Regions from separate parts of the Homo sapiens genome. Here region 1 is linked to region 2. Evidence: fine-mapped expression QTL. A gene starts in region 2. The other region holds a variant in brackets. All regions are shown on one strand. Distances are from middle to middle. Region 1 overlaps CTDSPL2 (CTD small phosphatase like 2). Region 2 holds the start of PDIA3 (protein disulfide isomerase family A member 3).

Region 1 (8,272 bases), 780 kb before region 2:
AGACTAAGTAACAGAGTGAGACTTCATGTCAAAAAAAAAAAAAAAGTTTCATCATTGAAGCTATAGAAGAGTAAATAAACAACACAAATGAAGCAGAGCTACTTATAGGTTCTTTTTTTTGAGATGACATTTTGCTCTCGTTGCCCAGGCTGGCGCAATCTCTGCTCACGGCAACCTCTGCCTCCCAGGTTCCAGTGATTCTCCTGCCTCAGCCTCCTGAGCAGCTGGGATTACAAGTGTGTGCCACCATGCCCAGATAATTTTTTGTAGTTTTAGTAGAGATGGGTTTCATCGTGTTGGCCAGGCTGGTCTCGAACTCCTAACCTCAGGTGATCCCCCCGCCTCAGCCTCCCAAAGTGCAGGGATTACAGGTGTGAGCCATTGTGCCTGGCCTTAGAGTTCTTTTTTTTTTTTTTTTTTTTTTTTTTTGAGATGGACTCTCGCTCTGTTACCCAGGCTGGAGTGCAGTGGCACAATCTCGGCTCACTGCAAGATCCGCCTCCTGGGTTCACGCCATTCTCCTGCCTCAGCCTCCCGAGTAGCTGGGGCTACAGGTGCCCGCCACCGCGCCCGGCTAATTTTTTTTGTATTTTTAGTAGAGACGGGGTTTCACCGTGGTCTTGATCTCCTGACCTCGTGATCCGCCCGCCTCGGCCTTCCAAAGTGCTAGGATTACAGGTGTGAGCCATGCGCCCGGCCCCTTTATAGCTTCTTTTTAAGAGGAAGTACCTTAAGCATCAGACTCAAAATCTTATAAAGATGGACTAGGTTAAGGCTGAAGAGCAGATTGTTTTAATTGGAAATAGGGGCAGGTCAAAACTCCTATTTATAAAAGTGCAAAATTATGGAGTCATTGCATGTTTTTTCTAATGATTTCTTGGGAAAAAGAGTACATGTAAAAACAAATTTTGGCAGAGCACAGTGGCTCATGCCTGTAATCCCAGAACTTTGGGAGGCCAAGGCAGGCGGGTGGATCACTTGAGGTCAGGAGTTTGAGCCCAGCCTGGCCAACATGGTGAAACCCTGTCTCTACTAAAAATACAAAAATTGGCTGAGCATCATGGTGCACGCCTGTAGTCCCAGCTACTAGGGAGGCTGAGGCGGGAGAATCGCTGGAACCCGGGAGGCAGAGGTTGCAGGGAGCTGAGATCCCACCACTGCACTCCAGCCTGGACAACAGAGCAAGATTACATCTCAATAATTAAATAAATAAAGTTTTTGATTTATATGATTTGATTAAGTTAAATGAAATTTTTTATTTTAAACCAAAACGAAAAACCAAAACCCTACCCCCATGAGTCTTAAGACACGAAACTGTCTCCATTCAACTTCCATATATTTTTCCATACTTACAGGGTACCATAAAATCCTACAGTACCTTCCTATTCCTGTCTGGCCAGCGGAAAAAACATGCCTTCCTCAGGGAGTGCCTAAAATCCACATGATTAGTAAGCTCTCAGTAAGCCACACAAGCCATACTCTCCCCAGAACCTTAACAATCTTCTGACCTGACTGTCCACTATGATGCTATCACCCAGTGCATTAACTTAGAGAAAGGGAATACTTTACATGGAGAGTTATATAACTGCTAACTGGCCTCCCACCCACCCACTCTATTTCCAAAGCGATCTTTTAAAATACGCACCTGATCATTTACTCCCCTGAGCCTCCTCTCCCCACAGCCAAGCCTAGCTTTAGCCCTTTAACCAATAAAAGGATCTTGACTTTCTCTACTGGTAGATTTTAAGCTTAAGATTTTAAGGCATTGTCTGTTTTGCCACCTTCTACCATTCACAGAGCCTGGCATGGTGCCTAACACGTAGTGGTTTTTATTTTTTATTTTTTGAGATAGAGTCTCTGTCACCGAGGCTGGAGTGCAGTGGCACAATCTCGGTTCACTGCAACCTCTGCCTCTCTGGTTCAAGCGATTCTCCTGCCTCAGCCTTCCAAGTAGCTGGGACTACAGGCGTGCACTACGATACCTGGCTAATTTTTGTATTTTTAGAAGAGACGGGGGTTTCACCATGTTGTCCAGGCTGGTCTCAACTCCTGACCTCAATTATCTGCCCACTTCAGCCTCCCAAAGTGCTGGAATAATAGGCGTGAGCCACTGCACCCGGCCTAACAGGTCTTTTAAAAAATGCAACCCACTGCTGTCTTTCTTAAAAACCCTCCCTGACATCTGTGGTCCTGTGGTATTACAATATCCTGATCCTACTGCACATTCCTGCTTTCTGGCTTCAGACATCTCTCAAAACCTGGTATATAGTTCTCATCCCTCCTTCAGAAAACTACCTGCTTTAACATCTCCATCCTCATGTTACTTGTATATTGCTTACGGCTTATAACATGTTTTGACATTTCATTTGATCCTTATAATTCTGAAAGGTAGGTAACAACCCTCTTGCTTATTAAGTGGCTGGGTTTTCAGGGACTTGAACTCAAATTTGATTCTGAACTTCATGCTTTCATTGACCATGCTCTCAAGTCAACTATCTGCCTGAATAGAATGTTATAGTGCAATCACTTATTTCTCAAGGATTATTGCAGTGGCTTTCAAAACTGTGTGCGCCTCAAACTCCTTTGGAGCTTAGGGAAAATAGCTATCACAAAGTCTCATCACAGAAACTAGTGTGGGACCAGAGTGCTACTATGCTATAGTGATACTGGCTCATTATTTTAGCCCATACATCGAGTATATTCCTCATCTTAGCGCACTATAATCTGGTTCACTCTTGCCATCTTCTCTCTCCTTTTCAAAACCAACCCCTTTTAATTCTGGTTGGTATCTTCAAGTGTTTTTCACCTCTGCTCACAGTAGTTCCAGCAATAAAGAATGCCCTTCCAAAATCATTACTGTAACGGTAATTAAGAGACTTACATTCTAGTCCTAGCTCTGTGATCTTGGGAAAACACTAAAATAGAGTACACCTAGAACTTGAAATTTCCTTCTAGTTTAAAATGAATTATTACCTATAGGTCTAGTTTGTACCACTGTATATTCCTTACATTTTATAAGAACATTTTGTTGGCTAAATAGACTTACAAACTTGAGAAAGCTTTGTATTCATGAACAAACATAATCATACAAAATGCCAAGGCACTAGGAAACAGAATATTATGGTGATAACTAAATTCAAGTCTCCCAGAGGAACTGCATAGTCTTGGGTCACAGCTTTCTCCAAGTCTCAATTTCCTTTATGTTTTTCAACATCAAAAGGGAAAGTAATGTGAAAAAAAGATATGCTTCTAAACAAAAAAAAGCACTGTACAAATGTTGTTAGAAATTATATTGTTTCTGATGGCTGATAAAATATCATCAAAGAGAAGTGCTTCCATAAAAGTTTTATTTATCCCCACAACAACCCTGTGAGGTAGGGTGATCAGGGCATTTGAAGATGAGAAAACTAAATCTACATTACTTGTTCACGGCTATACTGCATAGTAAATAAGAAGAAATTAAATTGAGATTTTAAAATGTCCATGACTTTAATATTGATTCACGTGGAAACAAGGCAGAGAGAATATTAACTCCCCCCTACCTTAATGCCAAAAGGACACTGCCTTGAAAAATCCCATTTCAAAAGATGAAAGTAGTATTTCATTGCTTATTTCTACAAAGATTTATAAAATAAAAAAATAGTGAAATATTTTACAGATAATATATATAATGGTCTCATTCAGGGACATGTCCTTTAGCTATGTATATGGTCAACTATTCCAAGTCCTAGAAATGCAAACCCTTAAAAAATATGAAAGACAAAAATGATAATGAGCAGTAGCCTTAATC[T/C]TCTTTATTATTCCTCCATGTATCTTGAATAAGCTCTGTGAAATCTGGTCCCAGTTTAAAAAAAAAAAAACTCTACCACAAAGAGATGTCTGGTGAACTTTAATTTTGTTGCCTACTCTCAAACCAGTGTCACATTTAGCTAAAACATTGATTACCCAATACTGGCTATTAGAATCACCAGGAGAGCTTTAAAGAAAAAACAAAACAAAACAAAACAAAACCAACCAAACAAAAAAAAAAAGCCAGAACTCTCAGGCCCCTCTCGAGATCCAGCGAGACAATTTTCCAGGGGTAGGCTCCAGGAATCTATTTTAAAAGCTCCTCAGAGTAATTCTAATGGTCAGGTTTCGGGATCAACTGATGTATCTTAAAATACTAATATCAAAAGCATAAACTAGTATAAACTTGTCGCTCTCTCCCCCGCCGCCCCACCCTTTTTTAAAAAAGATCTCAAATCATGTTATATCCCCAGAACTCTTGCCTCTGGGCAAGTAATTTCAATTCAAGATACAGAGAAACATTTTATAAAAATGTACCCTAGTTAGTGAGACTTGGATTCCAATAATAACTTAAGTAGCATTTAAATATAAGATACTGAGTTTTGTGGTTCATATTCTGAAAATTCTTAAATGTATTTTATACATGTTTGTCGTAGGCTTTCAACTCAGGGGAAGACATGAGAAGTAATGACATCAGCACTAAAAAAATACTATACTCAATTATAGCTCATGAGAGGAATAAGAAAGTCAATGAATGACAACCCTAAGGCCTTTTGGCCCATACATTTTTGTTCCCAGTCCACTCTTCCCCTATAAGGGGAAATAAAATAAACATTCTTTACTAGTTGCTTGGCATAGTTATTCGGTGGGTAACTATTAACTAAGTTAATTTAGATACACAAGATTAAAAGATAACAAATAAATACCTAGGAAGACAAAGAGAAGTCAGGTCAGAAAACCTTAACTAGCTAATGATGTAGTATATAACACCATCATATTAGTACAATTAAATAAAGGCTTCAATGTCCTTTACATTTTAGCTTTATGTGATTGACACAGACATGGAAGAGATCTGGTCCTTATGAAGAATTCTGTGCTCGCAGGAAAGATCTGTAGGAATAATGAAATGCTTTCTTCATTGATGAGATGAAGTCTCTGTTTTTCAGGCAAGTTGACAGAACAAAACAATGAGAAACGAACTTCTTTAGAAGGTTGAATGAAAGTAAGATCTAGATGAAAAAGTCATTGGCCAAAGATAATTTTTTAAAAAAAACATTCTATGTTAACCCTTGGAAAAAAAAACAAAAAACAACCCAGAGAAATACAAGAAAACAATGTACACATTCATTTCACTGACAGTTACAAGAAAATAGCCGTTTATAGAAGTTACACAATGCTTTCAACAAATCCCAAACAAATTTTGGGAAACAGATAAAGCCATTGGGTAAAAATAAATATACATACTAGCTAATATAAAACAATTTATGGTTACGAATTGTCATCAATTCTCTTAGGACACAAGGAGAAATATGGTGATATAAATCTGATGAGGGCTACATATATTACATGGAATTAAAAAACAACTGATTAAAACATCCTAACAATGATACAAATATTTAAAAGAATGTCTTAAAAGTCAGACATTTACCACTGGAAATAGCACGACTTTAATATGTACTCCAGAGTTGTAATGTGTATACAGGTCACTTTCGCTGTGTCTCATCAGGTATCCACCTCTCCTGCATTTACTAGTCAGTTTTTTAAGAGTTCATGTTTCCTGTGTGAGCTGAAGGGGCTGGGCACATTTCAATTTAAAAAATACACACCTCCGATTAACTAAATGGAAGTTTTTTACATCTACCAACAGATAAAGAAAAGAGAGGATAATGGGAAGACAAAACATTGTATTAAGGTAGAAGGAAGCTGGATAAATTGTCTCTGTAAATTATCTTAAATTTTGTATTAACAAATTTAAAATGACTCAAATAAAATAACAAAGAAAAATATATTAATTTGGCCTCAAGGAATTTTCTCAAGCCATAAAAAATTTTCTTAGTTTATTTCTTTACGGAAGTATCTTATGCTTGATCAGCTGACTTAAAGGAACTCTCCTAGTGTGGGACTGAAAACAACTTTATCATTGATAAAAGATGATTAGTTTAAAAAGTTGGTTTTTATTATTGAAGTGCCCACAGGCACAAGAGTATAGGTGCTTACATTTCCCTTTAGATTATGGGAAAGCCCTTTTGAGAATGCACTAAATCAGGAAATCTTTCAGCAATCAGAATGCATGCTGAAAGTTCAGATCTTTTAAGTTTTGGGTTTCGCTGTTTGAGCATAAAAAGGAAGGGAGCAGGGAGAAATGTAACTAGGTTCACAATTTTGAGCAAGAGCATATGTAAAGGTAACGTATGTACATTTTATTTCAAGAAAGACAGAAGACAAACAGCATAAAGATGCCCAGATGCCCTAAAGATAAATACATTTCAAAGATTCTCATTAAAATGAATCTGTAGTATTTTTTTCCTGCAAGCAAAATACCTTTCTTTAAATAAAATTAAAAAAATCAGTATTCTGAATTGCAAATGCTTTTGTTTTTTTTTTGCAGAAAATCTGCCATGATTATTTTTTTAATGAATAAGGATTTTCCACAAAACAGGCTTGCTCTACATGCTAGATTTTTAAACAGTTCAGTGACACAATATGCTAACTACATACACAACAGATAATATAGTAAGAAAACACTCAACCTGATGAAAAGTTAAAATCTTCATTAATACACTGAAAATTGACATAACTCATGCCTTTAAAATCAAAAATACAAAAATTAAATGTTTTCCTAAAAAGATTTCCTTATTTTAAGGATTCATTTGAAAATGAAGCTGCATGTAATTTGTACAGTAAGTTGTACAAGTAAACAGGTAATATACATAAAAAATTAATTGACATACTCCTCAATTATCAGTTGTCCACCTTTAATTTCCAATACTGTACTTTCTTAACAAGCATACAAAATATCAAACTTCTCTTTAGAAAAAGTGCCGTTCTTTGACATCCTTTACACAAAAACAGTCTGAGCCTGTGGCATGTTAATGCAGTTGAGAGGCAAAGCATACGAACTTTTACAAATTCTACCTTCCATAAAAAGCCTCCCGAAAAGGAGATTACACGCCACTATAAAAATATCAACCTCTTGTGGTAGCTGCATTAGAGAACCAAGGCTTGAAGACTATTTTCATATAGCATAGAAAAACCACTATGAGAGCATATTAACTGCATTGGTGGCTTGGGAGTGTACTGTGCCACAGGATTATGCATAGCTACTGTTAGGTACCAAGACTGTTATACAGTTTTAAATTGATTGTAACTGAGAGCATAACAGAGGTACTACCAGCCCATGCAAAATAACTAAAAATACTGAGTCACTGTGCTGAATACTTCATTCCTGGAGAAAACCAAAGGCAGCAGTAACTAAATCAAGCCAAACAGGTGACCAAACTTTCTCCTCAAAGATTTGTGAGCACAGTGAAGTCTGAGGTATACCTTTATCCATTAAATCTGTGTGCCATTGCAAGATATTACCATTTGAGAATATACGCCATCACAATGGTTTAAATCTTTTGTATATTAGTCATTCATATATTCTTATCTACCCAGTCTCTTGATTTTTGAAAAGATTTCACCTACAGTAGAATATTACAGAAACAAAATATAAATGCATGTCTTTCTAAATGAAACTTACATAGACTAAAAGTAGAGAATATTTTTAAACAAATATACAATGTGCAGGCAGACAAAGCAGGAAAACGGCCATTCAAATGTATAATAAAAAACTAAAAATTGACTATCTCCAGAAAACTATGAAGCGCCTCAACTAAAAGGAATGCATAATGAAATTCTAATCTAATACAGGTCAAAAATGTAAAAAGGTTATAAACCTTAACAGGAAAAATAAAACAACTTTTACTGGCCATTCCTGTTGAAATGAGAATCATAAAGTAACAGAAAAGTGGCTACAAACCCACTTAGAGCACCAAACAGAGAGAAAATAAAAGTCCATTTTCATCTCTGTTATTATCATAAAATCCTGTGTGACTACAGGTCAAACTGCTGGTGGCAGAAACAGAATTCTTTATAAACTGCAGATGTCCTGTACATAAAAAATTTCACTGGAGTTGCACTAGTTCTAAAGACTCTTCTGTTTTAGCCTACCTACTATATGTATTCGATCTGAGATAGATAAAGTCTCTTTCTGTAACCCTTAATTATTATTGGGCACCAAAGATAAGAAAAGCAAGACGGGGTACAAAAATGCAAAATTTCAACAGTAATGGCAATGTTTTTGTCTTAGTCCAAAAGGGTCCTGCATTCTCTCCCCCTTCAGTGATTTGACAAGTCTTTGTACTTAATCTGGGGGCAGCAAATCATGCAAGCGAAATCTGTCTCTGATGTGTGGTCGAACATCTTCATTCTGCGTGGAAAA
Region 2 (8,335 bases):
CGCCTGAAATCCCAGCACTTTGGGAGTCCAACGCAGGTGATTCAGGTGAAGTCAGGAGTTCAAGACCAGCCTGGCCAACATGGTGAAACCTGGTCTCTACTTAAAAAAAAAAAAAAAAAAAAAAATTAGCCAGACAGGGGAGGCGGAGGTTGCAGAGCCGGGATCGCGCCACTGCACTCCAGCCTTGGCAACAGAGAGAGACTGTCTCAAAAAAAAAAAAAGCAAGCAAAGCAAGCTTTCACCTTTCACTTTCACTTGAAACATGAAAGCGGAAAAAGAATTTGCTTAAATAGGTCTATTTTGTGACGAGAATAAGGTTAAAAAAAAAAAAGCCCATTTTACTTTCTTTTTTGAGATGGTCTCACACTGTCATTTAGGCTGGAGTGCAATGGTGCAATCTCAGCTTCCTGCAACCTCCACCTCCCAGGCTCAAGTGATCTTCTCCTCCCACCTCAGCCTCCTGAGTAGCTAGGACTACAGGCGTGTGCTACCATGCCCGGTTAATTTTTGTCATTTTTTAGTAGAGATGGGGTCTGGCCATGCTGCCCAGGCTGGTCTCTTACCTCGCCACTGCCTCCTGGGTTCAAGTGATTTTCCCAACTCAGCCTCCCAAATAGCTGGGATTACAGATGTGCGCCACCACGTCCAGCTAATTTTTGTATTTTTAGTAGAGATGGGGTTTCCCCATGTTGGCCAGGCTGGTCTGAACTCCTGATCTCAAGTGATCTGCCTGCCTTGGCCTCCCAAACTGCTGGGATTACAGGAATGCACAACAGGGCCAGACCCCATTTTACTCTTACTAAGGATTTTTTAACTGTTTCTTGTAAGATAGTACTACTGAACTGTACAAAGGAATATAGCAGTCAGAAAACATTTCCAGCTGAAATGTTAATAAATAAAAATACAGAGGCCAGGCTAGGTGGCGCACGCCTGTAATCCCAGCACTTTGGGAGGCCGAGGAGGGTGGATCTCCTGAGGTCAGGAGTTCACCATCAGGCTAACATGGTGAAACCCCGTCTCTACTAAAATACAAAAATTAGCCGGGCTTGGTGGTGCGTGCCTGTAATCCCAGCTACTCAGGAGGCTGAGGCAGGAGAATCACTTGAACACGGGAGGCGGAGGTTGCAGTGAGCCCAGACCATGCCACTGCACTCCAGCCTGGGTAACAGAGCAAGACTCTGTCTCAAAAACAAAACAAAACAAAACAAAACAAAAACAAAAAAACAGGCTGGGTGCAGTGGCTCATGCCAGTAATCCCAGCATTTTGGGAGGCCAAGGTGGGCAGATCACCTGAAGTCAGGAGTTCGAGACCAGCCTGGCCAACATGGTGAAACCCTGTCTCTATTAAAAATACAAAAAAATTAGCTGGGCATTGTGGCAGGCACCTGTAATCCCAGCTACTCGGGAGGCTGAGGCAGGGGAATCACTTGAACCCAAGAGGCGGAGGTTGCAGTGAGTCAAGATAGTGCCATGGCACTCTAGCCTGGGCAACAAAGCGAGACTCCATCTCAAAAAAAAAAAAATACACAAACACACACACAAAAAAAATGTAGTGGAATGTGAAGAAATAAAGACCTCAACAGGAGACTTCTTTAACTCCAAATTGCTCATTCAGAAAACTCATCTTTCTTGCTGAAATTGTGGAGGATGACTTTTTCTTTTAAACCAATTAAAAGCAGACACCACAGCAGAGATCCACCCAATTCTTGGGACAGTCAGTGCCTGATGGGATATGTAGTTTTTAGGGTAGCACGTGTAACAATTTAAAGTAGGAAACACCCCCTTCAATTCAAATAAAAAATTCTGGTTTTTTTTTTTGAGACAGAGTTTCGCTCTTGTTGCCCAGGCTGGAGTGCAATGGCAGGATCGTGGCTCACTGCAGCCTCTGCTTCCTGGGTTCAAGCTATTCTCCTGCCTCAGCTTCCTGAGTAGCTGGGATTACAGGCATGTGCCACTATGCCCGGCTAATTTCGTATTTTTAGTAGAGACGGGGGTTTCTCCATGATGGTCAGACTGGTCTTGAACTCCCGACCTCAGGTGATCCGCCTGCCTCGGCCTCCCAAAGTGCTGGGATTACAGGCGGGAGCCACCATGCCCAGCCCCAAAATTCCTTTTTTAAACTAATATTCTAGTGGCCCACTATTCTCCAACAATTCCTACTTTAAATTGTTGCATGACCCCTGTAGTAAAAAGCATCACTCAGATCTGACAAACTTAGTGACACCCCCAGTTTTTACAAATTATTGACACCCCCTCAAAGCTAACAGCATGATTATATAATTGGGAAGAGTTGTTCCTAAGAGAGAACATGAGTTCCAGAGATGTATAAGAACTATCTATATGTGTAATCTGTACTGCCAGTTAGCCCCAGAAATGCCCTGGACACAAAATCTGTCCAAGCTGCAAACAAAATTTGCCATCTCTAGCACATCATTCTGATTCAGGTGGTCTTTACTACAGGACTTTTTTCGTGTAACCCTTAGCAAGTTGTTTGAGGCTAAGAAGGGAAGACCTGAGTCTGAAGCAAATAAAAGTTATACACAACTTTTACTGACATTTTTGAACACGGATAGTATTAAACCAAGGGTCACTGTGCCAGGAGGGGAAAAATTAAGTACTGTAATTATATATATTGAATTATATATAGAGAGCTATCCCCAGGATAAAGGAATCACTGTTTACTCTGGTAATGATCTGGAGGTTTAAAAACACACACACACACAAATAAAAAAAAAAAACAAACACTCAAGTTGACTGGGCCAGAAATCTTATTTGCTCTTCCTTCTCCCCAACAGTTTTTTATTTCGAGTTAGTTCTATCTAAGGAATTTACACCCTTGATCACTTAAGTCACCCTAAAGTGGAGTATGTAATCAATATTGGTTATTTTCTCATTGGAGTCTTTTTTGACATTTTAAAGAAATGCTATTTAAAACAGACAATATGGACAGATTCTGATGGAATTATTCTTGTTCACGTACTCCTTTCGTTTGGACAGAGGTATCTGCCGGTACTGAGATGTAAGTGATCAGCTGAAGGGAGAAACTGTACACCATGTGACGGACAAATTACCTGCCTCAAGAAAGCACTTACGACCATTCTGCAGCCACTCAGTGACCTTGGCTAGAAACCAATGGCTGTGCGGCGTGAGGTAAGATGAAAGGAAATACCCTAGGGATCCAGGACTTCTGCATTTGGTGAAACGTCCGCTTCCACTACAAGGCTTTGGGATGCCTAGTCTGTAGACTGGAGGAGCATTAATACTGACTCACGCAGAAAAGATATAGCTACATATTGGACTGGGGGAAGGGGTGGCAAAACCCTCTGCAAATAGGAAGTGCCACAAGAGCACCGAGATAAGGATGAGGCCCTGCGTGAGCGCAGCCTTCGGGTTTTCCTTGGGCCGATCAGCACCGACTCCCCCGCTCTCGGCGAGGCGCCTCCAGCTCCCGGGAATGAGAAATGTGCCCGCCGCAGCAGGGGCCCACAGGAATGAAGGGCCCCGGCGCTGCGTAGGCCCAACAGTTCCCCGCGCTCTCGCCCCCGGCCCAGCCCCGCCTTTCTTCCCCCGCCTCGGCAGAATGGACTCACCAGGGGGCGAAGAACTCGACGAGCATGAGGCCCGCAGAGCCCGTGTCGGAGATGCGACTCTCGAAGTTGTCGTCCGTGAGTTCTAGCACGTCGGAGGCAGCGGCGAGGCGGGCCGCGGCAAGAAGCAGCGCCACACCCGGGAACAGCGCTAGGCGGCGGAGGCGCATGGCGGCGAGGTGGGGTGGGGACGGCCGGAAGGGTCGCGGCTCGGCTGGGACTGCGGAGGTCGGGCGCGCGACCACTAACCCGCTGCTTGCGCTCGCGCGTCTGGCCCAGGCGGACCTGCAGCCGGAGGTCCCAACCCCCAAACCCGGCTTGGGCCGCTGTGTGGCAGCCGCTGATTGGCTGCGCGTCGCCTTCGTCGGGCGGGCGGGACCAACTCGTTACCGCCGAGTGGCCGGAGCGCGGGGCGGGGCCGAGGCGGCGAGTGTCTGGGCGAGCGTGGCTGGGCCCGGTCCTGGGCTGGGGGCAGGGGCTAGGGCCGGGTCCCGGGGTGAGCCGAAACCTGGGGGTCGGGCGGGGCGGGAAATGGGGCGCAGTGAGGCTGGGAGCCGGCCCTGAGCTCGTCCTGCGTAGGGGTAGCCGGGCTCAGGGGGCGCCTGAGCTGGAGGTGGAAGCGTGAAGTCAGGACTGAGTGGGCGAAGAGAACCTGGGCTGAGGTGAGGCCCAGAAGCGAGAATGGAGGAGAGAAGGAGCTAGCCCCCGAAGGAGTGTTGGAGTGGACACACTTGGGACGGGACCCATTTTCAAAATGTCAGGCTTTGGCATTTTGTCCAATTTCTCTTCACTTGGTTTCTCTTGCGTGGGCAGGCCAAGCCCTCCCCCAACTCCACCTCATTGCCCGATTCTCTCAGGCCCAGGTGGGACCCAGGTTCTTCTTTGTCCAGCCCCGGGCCCCTGCCCTTGTGGCTGCTCCTTTTTTATTGAGTTTCTTGTTTTGTTTTGTTTTGTTTTGTCTGAGATGCCGTCTTGCTCTGTCCCCCACGCTGGAGTGCAGTGGCGCGATCTCCGCTCACTGCAAGCTCTGCCTCCCGGGTTCACGCCATTCTCCTGCCTCAGCTTCCCGAGTAGCTGGGCCTACAGGCGCCCGCCACCACGCCCGGCTAATTTTTTGTATTTTTAGTAGAGACCGGGTTTCACCGTGTTAGCCAGGATGGTCTCTATCTCCTGACCTCGTGATCCGCTCGCCTCGGCATTCCAAAGTGCTGGAATTACAGGCGTGAGCCACCACGCCCGGACTTTTTTTTTTTTTTTTTTTTTTTTTAATGAGCTTTTAATTGGTAGTGCCGTCACAAAGTGAAGATGCCTGGCCACTTGGTCGACTGCTCAATGTCTTTACCACTCTTAGCCCCTTTTGTTTCAAAAAACCCTGAGTCTTAGTAGAATGTTTGTTCTGCCCAACTGCTCCTAGTTCGTAGATGTGGGTACATTAAGGAATCTTAAGGGCAAAGAGGGTGGGGAGGAGGGGACAGAAAACCTGTAATCCTTGGTGCAGCTCCAAGAATGAAATGACACTTGATGCTTACATTTTCTTAGCAGACATGGCCGCTTACCAACAAGAAGGGCAGATGCAGCTTCCCCGAGCTGATGCCATTCGTTCACGTCTCATCGATACTTTCTCTCTCATCGAGCATTTGCAAGGCTTGAGCCAAGCTGTGCTGCGACACACTATCAGGAGTTACTTGGTCAGCAGCCTATTTCTTCACTAATTTAAATTTAAGACTCCTATCCACATCCTCTACATTTAAGAGTGGAAAATTCTGGGGAGGCCGGTTTAGTTGCTGGTTTACCAAACTTGATAAATCAAGGGCTTGTAAATAAAACTAAGGAGATAGAATCCACGTCTTTCACTTTTAGGCCTAGGATAGCCACTAGCCGTGGATGATACGGAACAGTTTCTGTCAAAGACTCTTAAAACTTTGAGAGTGAACCTGCTGCTTTTGTGGGCATGGACAGTGTTGGTCATAAGCAATACATTTGCTCTCACTCCAAACAGAATTCTTAGTTGCTGTGAGAAGAGAAGGACCAGCAGTAAGCCATTAGGGGGACCCATTATCTGAACAGTATCCCTGCCCCCAACCCTACCTGGTCTATTTTGTTTGTATTTATCCACTACCCCTTTTCAATTTTTGTTGTAGATCCTTCCCGCCAGAAGAAACTTATGTTGGGAGATCAACACCAGCTAGTGGGCGTCTCTATAAAGCCTCAACGTATAGAACAGATTTCACATGCCCAGAGGCTGTTGAGCAGGCTTCATGTGCGCTGCAGTCAGAGGCCACCTCTTTCTTTGTGGGCCGGATGGGTCCTTGAGTGTATCCTTTCATGTCACTCATTTTTATCCTGGCTGTTGATCATCTGCCTAATGACTTATTTTTTGCTTCCCAAACTCCATTGTCTCATTCTCACTGCTTATGTTATTGCTCTTATTATTTCAGCTGCATAAATCAGAAAGAACTCCACTCTGTATGTTTCCTTAAGAGACAACAGGTCCTCTCTTCAAAAACTTCATCATCTTCCTGATCTTTTTGAATACGATCGTACTGATGGTTGAAATACGTGAGAACTGACATTGTATGAAAGAGGAAGTGAGGCCAGGCGCGGCGGCTCACACGTGTAATCCTAGCACTGTGGGAGGCCGAGGCAGGCGGATTGCCAAAGCTCAGGAGTTCAAGACCAGCCTGGGCAACATGGTGAAACCCTGTTTCTACTAAAAAATACAAAAAATTAGCTGGGCGTGGTGGCATGGCCTGTAGTCCCAGCTACTCGGGAGGCTGAGGCAGGAGAATCGCTTGAACCCAGGAGGCGTAGGTTTCAGTGAGCTGAGATTGTGCCACTGCATTTCAGCCTGGGCGACAGAGTACAACTCTGTCTCAAAAAAAAAAAAAAAAGAAAAAGAAAAAGAGGAAGTGGGTAGGAGTAATTTTTTTTTTCTAAATTGATCATTTTACATTTTTGAATGTCATTTGAAATGTGACATTTATATTAAGGACAATTAAGCCTCCTGGAGTAGAATTTATGCAACTGCTAAAATCTAGAAATATTCGCTGGGCACGGTAGCTCACACCTGTAATCTCAGCACTTTGGGAGGCCGAGGTGGTTGAATCACTTGAGGTCAGGAATTCAAGACCAGCCTAGCCAACATGGCGAAATCCCATCTCTACTAAAAATACAAAAAATTAGCTGGGCGTGGTGGCGGACACCTGTAATCCCAGCTACTCAGGAGGCTGTGGCAGAATAACACTTGATCCTGGGAGGCGGAGGTTGCAGTAAGCCGAAATCACGCCACTGCACCTGATCTCAAAAAAAAAAAAAAGAAATATTAATATTTGGAGGGCTCTCAAGCGTATACTAGATACAGAGCATCTAGACACATAAAACTAGGTGTAATATGTAGCAATGTAACAAATCCACAAGGAATTGAACTTGGGAAGACCAGTTTTATTTCTGTTGTCAGTTTAGGCTGACAATTGTTTGCATTAACCTTTTCTGTTAAAGATATTGGTGCCTATCGGTGAATGATCTAACATTTACATTTTTTTTTTTTTTGAGACGGAGTTTCACTCGGTCGCCCAGGCTGGAGTGCAGTGGCACGATCTTGGCTCACCACAAGCTCAGCCTCCCAGGTTCACGCCATTCTCCTGCCTCAGCCTCCGAAGTAGCTGGGACTACAGGTGCCCGCCACCACGCCCAGCTAATTTTTTGTATTTTTTAGTAGAGACGGGGTTTCACCGTGTTAGCCAGGATGGTCTCAATCTCCTGACCTCGTGATCCACCCGCCTCGGCCTCCCAGAGTGCTGGGATTACAGGGGTGAGCCACTGCGCCCAGCCTAACATTTACATTTTTACAAGTATATTTAGAAATATTATTCAAGTAAAAATAAGAAAGCTCACAAAGTATGGAAAGGTAGGTACCACTAAGATATTAGCTGAGCCAAAAAAATTACTTAAAAGGAAATGATTCTTAAACCAATAATAAATTATATGAAACATATTCAAAACATAAGGATGTCTGCAAAATCAGTGAGCTCATTTGTTGATAATCTCAAACTGCTCAGAAATGATGAAAGGACAGTAGAACTACTCACTTGTTTCATTCTCACTGTTGTAGAGAAGTCTCCCACTTTATTTTTTAGTGACAGAGTCTCACTTTGTTACTTAGGTTGGAGTATAGTGGTGTGATCATGGCTCGCTGCATCCTCAACCTCCAGAGCTCTATTGATCCTCCCACGTCAGCCTCCTGAGTAGCTTGGACTACAGGTGCATGCCACTACACCAAGCTAATTATGTTGATTTTTTTTTTGTAGAGACAGGGTCTCACTATGTTGTCCAGGCTGGTCTTGAACTCCTGGGCTTAAGTGATCCTCATACCTCAGCCTCCCAAAGTGCTGGGATTACAGGCATGAGTTACCACGTCCAGCCTAGGAGGAATTTTTAAGAGAAGGGCGTAGTTATGAAGCTCTTGGCTGTTTATGTCACACAGATATTTTCCTCAACAGAAGTGTCCAGTGCCGGTAGCCAGTTCAGAACTCTGCCTCTAGCTCCAAGTCCCCTACAAGCTTATCTCTGGGGCCCAGGCATGGTGGCTCATGCCTGTAATCCCAGCACTTTGGGAGGCTGAGGCAGGAGGATTGCTTGAGCTCAGGAGTTTGAGACCAGTCTGGCCAATGTGGAGAAACCTCATCTCTACAAAAAATACAAAAATTAGCTAGGTGTGGTGGCACATGCCTGTAGTCCCAGCTACTCAG

What was found. PIP is the estimated chance that this variant, and not a neighbour inherited with it, causes the effect.
Region 1: its variant is fine-mapped to the expression of PDIA3 in whole blood (INTERVAL, PIP above 0.99).

What each region holds. Positions count from the first base shown.
Region 1 is chr15:44,524,097-44,532,368 of GRCh38, reverse strand. It overlaps CTDSPL2 (CTD small phosphatase like 2), which reads right to left. Exons shown (of 13, transcript NM_016396.3): 13 at 3,331-8,260. The coding sequence ends at 8,195. Among named protein-coding and RNA genes, the nearest start is that of EIF3J-DT, 8.7 kb to the left of the region's middle. The variant T/C (reference allele first, on the strand shown) is at 3,791.
Region 2 is chr15:43,741,962-43,750,296 of GRCh38, reverse strand. It overlaps PDIA3 (protein disulfide isomerase family A member 3), which reads right to left and starts at 3,859. Exons shown (of 13, transcript NM_005313.5): 1 at 3,591-3,859. The coding sequence starts at 3,757. It also overlaps the pseudogene CATSPER2P1. RefSeq lists enhancers at 3,234-3,283, 3,294-3,343 and a silencer at 3,844-4,143.